Linked DNA regions of Homo sapiens: region 2 is linked to region 1. Evidence: fine-mapped expression QTL. A gene starts in region 1. The other region holds a variant in brackets. All regions are shown on one strand. Distances are from middle to middle.

Region 1 (5,000 bases):
TGAGTAGTTGCAAGAGGCCGTATGGCCCACAGAGCCAAATATATTCACTATCTATCTGGCTCTTGGCAGAAAAAGTTTGCCAGCCAGTGCATCTGAGAAACAGATTGTGGGGAGGAAAGAGAGGGGAAGGAGAAGAAGAAAGGTTTTCCATTCTGGTGCTCTGTAGCTTCTCAGAAGCCACTGCAAGACCACTGGCAATCACTCTTACTGTAGAAGCACTAAGGTTGCGAGGAGAGATTATCCCAGAGCCTCAGATACAAAGATGAGGTACGAAGGGATGCTAGAAATTGCAGGCATGTAAGTGAATGTGGACAGGCAGAGAAATATACCACAAAGTCAAGCAGGAAGCCCCTTGAAGAGACGACGACCCTAACTAGAATATTGTCATGAAGAGCATTGCCAGGCAGGTCCCTGGAGCTTTTCAGACAAGCACTTTGCCTGGGTGCAGAGTGGAGGTGGGTGGCAGAGTTGAGGAGAGGGACGGGGAGAGGGGGTAAGGGGGTGATTCTAAAATAGTGCAGAAATATTTGACAAAAAGAAGTGTCCCTGAATGTATACATCCAAATAGATATGGTCACCTGAAGCAATGCTTCTCAAACCTGCATTTGCAAACAGTCCCCTGGGGGTCTTGTGAAAATGCAGATTGTGAATCAGCGGGTCTGGGGTGGAGCTCAAGCTCCCCAGTGATGCTAATGCTGCTGGTCCACAGACCCCATTTTGAGAAGCAAAGTTGTAGAGGCCACAGCCTCAGTTTGCCCTTATTCTCTAACATCATTTGAGCTCCTCTTAGAGAGTCAAGGTGAGAGCCAGGTTATTGGGCACGCTGGAAAGTTCTCTTTCATATTTTATGCAGGCCTCCTTATCCATAATAGTAGCGTCTGGCTTGATGAATTTTACTTTGCTCTAAAAACATCGGCACTATTTCCTGAGAATAATTTTCTCTGAAAGAACAAAGATTTGCTGCCGCGGAGAATCTTTCAACCGATATGCCACGGCCTCAGGAGGTAATCATAAAAGTAGAGTTTTGTAAAAGTTTCGTGCAGTGGTAATATCGTTAAAAAGAGTACATATTTTTACATAAACAATAATTATTGGGATTTTTAAGTTTGGGAGCATTTGCAAAACCTAACCTTGCAGTCACGTTGCACGTAGCCTGTAGTCTTTTGGCATGCCCATAGAATTTTTCCTCTTGTTTGGAATTTCAGCAGAGGACCCTTGTTTAAACCCTAAGTGCTGAGAAATCTTACAAGAGTTTTCAAGAGCCACAGATTCAGTTGCAGGAGTAGGAGATTTCGCTTTATCAGAAAGCAATAAACCCATCTAATTTCCTAAATCTTCAGCCACAGAAAGCGTGGAAAGATGGTTTGCTCATTTTAGCAGTTTTCAACCACACAACCCTAACTCTTTTAAAGTTTAATTACTGGTTTACCCCTGCCAAAATAAACATGGCCTCCTGCAGGTTTGCTACATTTCAAACTGCACCTAGAATCTCCTCGTTCCTATGTAACGTTCAAGTTAATGAAGTATTATGGGTTGTATGAGAAAAATTAAAACGGTAATAGTCAAGGGTTCAGAAAGCCTAGAATTTTAGAAAATCCCTCACTCCTTTCCAAGATATTTGATTCTTTTTCATGGGAATACACTTCTATCATCCTATATACTCTCTGGGTACATCATTCTCACCAACAGTCATTAAAATAACTGAATCACAATATCTTTCAAATCTTGGGGGAAAACCTCTGTTTTCCTTCATATTAATTTGTAAATCAAATTGCATCTCACCAGAGTCACTGGATAAGAAAGGAATTGAAGAATATCATTAAAAGCACACTTTAAAGGACTGATTTGTGTTTTGTGAATTAAATTTCATGATTCGTTCAAGCAAACATTAATAAAAGTCAAATGGAAAGACACTCCAGCATGGTTTTCATCACAATGTAAAGTCTTTCCTCAAAATATAAATGAAACTATGTGACTATGAATTCACAAACACTCATTTTGCTAAATGTACCACATAAAAAATTTTCCACCCAATGCAACAGAATCAGCCAGCCACTCGAAGCCACTTACACCCACTTTGCCTTCTGGACTATACATTTGGTACTTGGGTGTATTTATTTATTTAGGCTCCTTAAAAAAGCCTTCTTTATCATTTGCATATTTGATAGAAACTAAAGATACACCACCTATGAACGCAGGCAAACAGCCCTATACCTGTGTTATGACAAGTTTTGCTACAATAAAGCACAAGGAAACTTCTCGACACACACCCAGTTCCCCCGGCCTCCTGCACTCCACTTACCTAGAAAGAGGATCGTGCCCAGAACTAGGGTGCCACCGACAAACACGACCAGGGCAATTCGAGTGCCTCTGTTGGCCTTCTTTCCAGTCTCCACGCTGCTCCCTGTTTCTGCTTCCATCAGAAGGGCCGTAGAGAGCACACGAGAAGAAAGTCACTTTTCGTGGTTTGGTGGCTGGTCTCAAGAGCGAGGCGTTGACATCCAAGGCTTTCTTGCTCTTCTACTAATGGACAGCTTAAGAAACTGCCGTCAGGAAATCTCCCCTCGCCACCCTTTCTCAAATAATTCTTCACAAATGAAAATTATAAAAACCAAAATATTGGTTGCCTTGGCTTTCCCCCTGACTAGACAAAACAAACAGTGTTGCTTTATCTTGGTGCTCTCCCTCAGCAAAGTCCCTGTTTGGCAGGCTCTTCTCTCAAGCGTTCCGAGTATATATGTTTTACTATGTTGCTGAACAGATGTTTTAGCTATTTAAATGTATAGTCACTTGGGGAGGAAAAAAACAATTGTTTTATCAAAACTGGATTCTCGTGAAACTCCCCCAAATCATGATAAGTTAGGTGGCCAGGATTCACCGGACCCACTTCAAGATCTCAATTAATCATGTAATTCTGTTGCAAGAATCATTCTGCTTGCCTGAATTGTCTTCATCAAAGATATTCTTTCAGTGTGTGAGTCCCTTTTTAAAGCCTTCTAAGAGTTCCTAGGATATCCTGGAGCATTTTATTTCAGGAACTTTGTGTATGATAGCATGTGCCAAAAATCAGTCATAGTCCAGTGCAGTGCAAAGTAGCAATTAAGACAACCTACAGAGGCTGATGGTTTGAACTGGAACTTTTTCTTAAAGGAAGGAGAAAAAGCACTTCCTCTTTGTGGTACTAAGAAGTGTACAAAAAAAAAAACCCACAAAAAAACACAAGTGCGTGAATTAAGTTTATTAGCAACTACAAAAGATATGATGAAAAATTTTTTCCTTGTGTGTTTTTGATGAAAAGTGCACCATGTGTTTTGTCTGCCACTCCTACTGAGGCAGCCATTCATTAGGATGTTTTTGTGTTTACATAAACTGTCCACTTCAGCAGATTCCCCAGGATGAATTCAAAGGCAATTGGTTTCAGGCCGGGCGTAGTGGCCCACGCCTGTAATCCCAGCACTTTGGGAGGCTGAGGCAGGGGGCTCGCTTGAGGCCAGGAGTTCGAGACCAGCCTGGCCAACAAGGCGAAACCTTGTTTGTACTAAAAACACAAAAATTAGCCGGGCATGTTGGTGAGCACCTGTATTCCCAGCTACTCAGGAGGCAGAGGTGGGAGAATCGCTTGAGCCTGGGAGGTGGAGGTTGCAGTGAGCCAGATCGCGCCACTGCACTCTAACCTGGGTGACAGAGAGAGAGACCCTGTCTCAAAAATAAACAAACAAAAAACAAAGGCAGTTGACTTCACTGGAAAGACTGATGAATGACTGGGTCTTTGATATTTTTGATTATGATAATGATTTAAACGATAACAATGTGCTTTCTTCATGGGGAAGGGCAACTGATATTCCAATGCTACCACTGAAATGATATAGATTTTATTATCCAAAGATATAGATATCGTTAACTCACAACACAATTACTACCTACCTGCTTTTGTTTTGCTGGAGGTCATAGGGCAGTGGGAGTGGGGGTGGAGAATTCAACTATATCTAGAAACCAGTAGAGCAATTATCTCAATGCAAAACTTGTGCGCATGGCTTTAGAGGTGACACAGGAGCTCAGCAGGTGCTGATGAGCTCAGTATAACATGGCCACACATTCATGGTCCTGTCTGGCTTGTCTTGGTCAGGGCTTAAGCCCTTAGCATGGGATTCTCTCAAGTTTTGGGGCTTATTCCATAATATACCTTACTTTCTGCTCATTTCATGTTGCGCCAAAGTCAGGGGGTCACAAGCCTTTGTCCAAGTTATGACATCATGGTGTGTTGTAGTTATCCTGTGCTCATTGGCTGTTGACATTATTTTGTTGCTGTTATTCCATAACACACCCTAGCAGGACTTTGGCCCCTAGTATGGGATTCTCCCAAGAGTTTTTGGACCTCACTCTAGAACACATCTTAGACCATGAGTTCCACAAAGTCAGGAACCATGTTCAATGTTGCAGCTCCAACATCGACATTTCCTGGCCCTTCACAGTGAAAAGGAGAGCAATAAAAATCATACAAGTTAGCCCTAGCCACTTACTCTTAACAACCAGCTTCAGCTGGGCGCAGTGGCTCACGCCTGTAATCCCAGTACTTTGGGAGGCCAAGGCGGGTGGATCACGAGGTCAGGAGTTCGAGACCAGCCTGGCCAACATGGTGAAACCCTGTCTCTACTAAAAATACAAAAAATAGCCGGGCGTGGTAGCAGGCGCCTGTAATCCCAGCTACTCAGGAGACTGAGGCAGGAGAGTTGCTTGAACTCAGGAGGCGGGTTGCAGCGAGCTGAGATCATGCCACTGAACTCTAGTCTGGGCGGCAGAGCAAGACTGTCTGGAAAAAAACAAATACAAAACAAAACAAAACAAAAAACCAACTTCGGGGCCAGAAGTGGTGGCTCACACCTGTAATCCCAACACTTTGGGAGGCTGAGGTGGGCAGATCACTCTAAGTCAGGAGTTCGAGATCTGCCTGGCCAATGTGGCGAAACCCTGTCTCTACTAAAAATACAAAAATTAGCCAG
Region 2 (5,537 bases), 77 kb before region 1:
ACAGGTGTGAGCCACTGCACCCAGCCCTAAAGTAACTTTATATGCTAGTGACTTTATAGGGTCAAAGCATATCCAAAATAATTGCACTACTCTTCCAGAGTAATGGCCCACTAAGAATTTCTATACTTATTAGTTCCTCTAATAACTAAAATGCCTCTTGAATGAAATCATAGCTTATAAGATTCACCATTCACTTAACTTTAAATTGATAGAAAAATAAAAACTGTTTCAAAGATACAAAATCCTTACGGCCTCTAGTGGTAGGAGAATTAGTCAGACATAAGCCTCAAAAACAAAGGTGAGAGTAACATGGGTACAAACTGGGAGACGAGCAAGGGTGGGAGAGAAGCAAAGGTTAAAGAGCCAGGTGAGGCCCGGCACAGTGGCTCGTGCCTTTAATCCCAGCACTTTGGGAAGCTGAGGTGAGAGGATCACTTGAGCTCTGGAGTTCAAGACAAGCCTGGGCAACATGGCAAGACCCCATCTCTAATAAAAATAAATAAATAAAGAGCCAGGTGAGCAGGTGGAGGAAAACCATCTCAGACAGTTGAGCAAGAAAACTAAATTGGAGCCTCTTGGACCTAGCAGAGGATAGATTCAAAGATGGAAGGTATAGGCAAAGTTTAAGACAAAATTCCATTTCCAAATTGAAAATGAAGTTCTACCATCCAATATCTCTATCATGCACATTTTAAATATTCAGAATACTGAGAATAAAAGATAGTTACAAATATATCACAAAGAAATGTTAAAACTATAATTACAGTGACCCAGTTAAAAACTCTGGGGGAAAATGGGAATACACTAATAAGACGGGGAAGTTTGAAAACAATGTGTGGCCTCAAGTATTTCTCTAAATATCTTTATATAACCCATCAAAGTAAAACTTGAGTGTACCTTACCATATGTAATTTATACCTAAATAAAAATAAATAAGGCACACACACACACACAAAAACAATAGAGCTTGGGCTACAAACTCCCCCTGTCTAATCCCTAAAGATGATTTTTACTGGATCAGTTAATATATGGACTATTCCAGCATGTAAAGTTATCCAGCGATGTAACACTGCAATCTTCTTAAACTTACCCTTGAGAATTCCAGCCATCTATACTGAAAGCGCCTGCTAAGGTTTGGAATTCTGGAATAAACCATTCTCCACACCAAATAGTTGGCAATGGTCCTGTTAACAGAGAGAGATGCCCATTTATTGTATTTTAGGTCAATATCTGATGCTCTGCAGAACATCTTGAGAGAAACAGTTGGCAAAGCTCCATCGAGGGACCTCTTACTCATACAAAAATGCAGAACTTTCACTTGAGAAATGACATAAGATGATACAATGTCAATAAGCACAACCAAAATTGGCTTGCTTTTCACCACCTAACAGAGATAGATGAAGGAAAGATTCCAGCTCCAGCCCTCAGAGTGAACATTTTACTTTCACTCTCAGGGTATAAAGTCCACTGTTACACAGCCTTTCGTGTCTGGAAATTGTGAGTACCTTCAAATTACAGCAGATCCTCGAATAACATCATTTCATTCAACATCCTTTTGTTATACAGTTGATAAGGAAAAAACCAATTCTGGGCCAGGGTCACTGTCTGTGTAGAGTTTGCACATTCTCCTCAAGTCTGCACAGGTTTTCTCTGGGTGCTGTGGTTTCCTCCCACATCCCAAAGATGTGCCTGCTAGGTTAATCGGCGTGTCTACACATTCCCAGTGTGAGTGAGCATGGTGAGCTACTGCACCCTGTGACAGGATGGCATCCTAGCCAGGGCTGGATCCTGCCTGGTGCCCTGAGCTGCCTAGATAGGCTCCAGCACCTGCAACCCTGAACTAGAATAACTGGGTTAATAATTATCTTACTTTCCCCTTCCTGTGTCCAAGTGTTCTCATTGTTCAATTCCCACCTACGAGTGAGAACATGCGGTGTTTGGTTTTTTGT[C/T]CTTGTGATAGTTTGCTGAGAATGATGGTTTCCAGCTTCATCCATGTCCCTACAAAGGACATGAACTCATCATTTTTTATGGCTGCATAGAGGGAGGGGGGAGGGATAGCATTAGGAGATATACCTAATGTAAATGACGAGTTGAGTTAATGGGTGCAGCACACCAACATGGCACATGTATACATATGTAACAAACCTGCACGTTGTACACATGTACCCTAGAACTTAAAGTATAATTTAAAAAATGAAAACAAGGATAAAAAAAAGAATATGTCTACAAAAACATTGAATGGGTTCCAAAGATCAAAAAAAATTATCTTACTTGCTTTTATTTGTCTTTCTTAAATGTACGCATAGCTCACATGTATTCAATGTTCAATATTAGAAGTGTTTTGGTCTTTATTTAGAAGTTTGGTGATGTTTTTGTGAGCAGGAATATGCCATGGGAACTTAACTCTTGTTTACATCAATTAGCCTATGGTAAAATTGATTTCATTATCTGTCATTTTGCTTAAAGTCACAGTTTCCAAGAAGCTATCGATGATGTTAAGTGAGGACTTACTGGATTAGGTGACTTGATACAATGCCTATGTATTCTTTGCCTTTGGAAACTAACAGCAAAATATTGGCTAATACCAATCATCTAATTTTGCACCCTCATTCTATACTTACTAAATATGTGAGTTTCGACAAGTCACTTAAGGTCTGTGATTTTATCTTTATTTTTCATACAATGAGGATGATCCCTACCTTACAGAGTTGTTGCAGGGTTCAAATAAATAACAAAATGCTTGACAAATAGTCAATTTCTAGGGTTTTGTCTTTCACTTCCAAATGTATGAACAACCTCATAAGCTCATGTAATGCCTATAATACATATCTTTAAAAATCTGTTAAATTTTAAGGGTTGCCTTTTTCTATAAGCAAAAGATGACCTGACCTCAGAAGAATGTGTGATCTCAGTTAATTTCTAACTCAATAGTGATGATGGATCTTTAATGATCCATTCCCCTCCCAGCTGTGCCATTACCATGGTGACTAATAACACACATTCCTGAAATGGCTTTCTGGTGAGCCAATCACATGAGAGCAATATGACATGATGATGCTAAAAGCCCATCAAGAACAAACTACACTCTCATTTGTATGACATTCTGACACAGTGGACATGCGCTCCTACTAGTAAAATATTTTTCAGCATACACACCCAATACATGGATGTTTAATTTCTATAGAGATATACTAATAGACTAATATATTAGGAATATTTTTAACAAATACAAAAACAGAAATTTCAAAAGATGAGGTAAAATGAAATTTAAAATCTTCAAAAGTCATTAATTCTTCAAACACCATTGGGTTAATTCTTCAAGACACAGTGTCCATATAGGATTTGGTTAATACAACAATGACAATGAATATAAATCCACATTTCTTAGAGTCTTCTTGACTATTTCAAAAATGTATGACATGTCTTTGTCAGATTGCCATTGTCCTTGTTCTTGTTAGACCACCATTGTATTTCTTTTGTCATCTGGCTAACCAACATGGCATACCAGCCTGGGAGAAGGGTCACTTCTGCCAATTTCTAGCTGTTCTCTTGTGCTTACATCATCAATAATCATTTCAATTCCTGTTTCCTGCAAGAATTTTTAAGCCACTTGTCTACTTTGTAAGTAGTAAACTAGATAAACTAGATAATAAAATTCATAAATCCACAGCTATATGTAAACCGCTCAAGATTTTTTTTTTTTTTTTTGAAGATGGAGTCTTGCTCTGTCGCCCAAGCTGGAGTGCAATGGCGCGATCTCCACTCACTGCAACCTCTGCCTCCTAGGTTCAAGCAATTCTCCTGCCTCAGCCTCCCAAGTAGCTGGGATTACACATGCCCGCCACCACGACTGGCTAATTTCTATATTTTTAGTACTGATGGGGTTTCACCATGTTGGTCAGGCTGGTCTCAATCTCCTGACCTCAGGTGATCCTCCCGCCTCAGCCTCCCAAAGTGCTGGGATTACAGGCGTGAGCCACCGTATCAGCTGAGATTATTTTTAATATATTGAATGAAAACAAGCCAGTGAGGGTGACAGTGCCCCTCTCACATGTTCCATACAGATCAAATGAAGGGTCCATAGCCATCAATATAGAACTCAATAAAGTGTAATTATTTTTCTTTATAAAGTTTTTTTATTTCAATAGCTTTTGGGGATGTAAATGGTTTTTGGTTATATGGATAAATTGTATAGTGGTGAAGTCTGAGATGTTAGTGCACCCATCACCCAAGTAATGTACACTGGATCCAATCTATAGTTTTTTTATGCCTCATCCCCTTCCTACCCTCCCTGCTTCTGAGTCTCCAAAGTCCATTATACCACTCTGTATAAAGCCTAATTATTTTTAAATTTAAATAAAGATATAGAAGTTCTAAAATGTTCTTCTCAGACCCAATGGATCTTGTTAGGATATGCGCATTCCCCTAAGACACCACTGCACTAATCAGCAAAGTCCAGCCCTTGCCCATCTCTGTTGAGGCCACTAAGTGGTTTGGGGTCATTCCTTTGGCTCTTTTGCATTCACATCTCCACTCCTTAATAGGACAAGAAGTGCTCACTGAGCACTTATTGTTGGCCAAGTATTGTGCCAGATGCCATGAGGAACGTAAAGAAGTAAGAACCCAGCACCTACAGTTAGAGAACTCAAAGTCCAGCTGGGAACACAGGACTTCAGATTTCAGCTTGTTCATGTAATTGGGTTGTTTAATTGAAGGGACACACTGTCAGTACATAAGGGTCTTTCTTTCATTCACTCAATCAACACATCCTGAGCACCCACATATATACTAACAGTTCTCTGTGCTGGGGAGATGGATAGTCCCTGATTTCCTGAAGCTTTTAGCTGAGCAGGGGAGATGAGGCAAGTGCATAAATAATGATTTGGTAGACACTAGCACCCAAAAGTATGTGCCAGACACTTCACTGTAAGGATAGTACATCTCAAACTGAGGGTTAAGAGTAGGCTTCATGAGAGAAGCATGCCGAAAGGTTAAAAGGCTTTGGTGTTGCAAACAGGAACGTGAACTCTGGACAGGCTAAATAATGGTGGAATCGGCTGATATGTTGGAGAGGATGGTGAACAGGATCATCACTCAAGGAAGTGGGCAGAAAGGCCAGCCACACTGGGGAGATGCAGACAGCGACCAGGTCATGGTGTCTAGCACATTAATGGGCCGATCTTGGTCCTAGTGCAAGGACTTTATGTTCTTTGTCTCTAAAATACCTCTTACCAGGCATGTGAACCATGCTGGATCCATAGGTGGAGACGAGAAGGAGGTCAACAGCCAGCAGATGTCCTTTCATCAGTTCAAAAGATATTCCCTCAAAGGGGTGGTGATGAGCCAGAATAACTAGGGAAGTTGTTAGGGGGCCCAATGGTGGTGGTGGAAGATGTAGTATGGCAAAGTATACTGGGGTTTGAGAAGCAGGGGCCCTTCCAGCTCCCCTGAGATCATCCCATTTAGGCATCTCACATTAATTATGATCCTCACAGTGCTGCTGTAAGAGAGATGTTATTATACCCATTTTACATATG

Which allele goes with the higher level. Alleles are on the strand shown, and positions count from the first base shown. SD is a standard deviation of normalised expression in the study named.
For the expression in spleen of the gene that starts at base 3,101 in region 1, C is the high allele of the variant in region 2 and T is the other (moderate effect, 0.59 SD a copy in GTEx).

Evidence for each region. PIP is the estimated chance that this variant, and not a neighbour inherited with it, causes the effect.
Region 2: its variant is fine-mapped to the expression of PHEX in spleen (GTEx, PIP above 0.99).

The regions. Positions count from the first base shown.
Region 1 is chrX:22,030,426-22,035,425 of GRCh38, reverse strand. PHEX (phosphate regulating endopeptidase X-linked) reads right to left here and starts at 3,101. Exons shown (of 22, transcript NM_000444.6): 1 at 2,303-3,101. The coding sequence starts at 2,420.
Region 2 is chrX:22,107,114-22,112,650 of GRCh38, reverse strand. It overlaps PHEX (phosphate regulating endopeptidase X-linked), which reads right to left. Exons shown (of 22, transcript NM_000444.6): 10 at 1,091-1,184. Among named protein-coding and RNA genes, the nearest start is that of PHEX-AS1, 63 kb to the left of the region's middle. The variant C/T (reference allele first, on the strand shown) is at 1,950.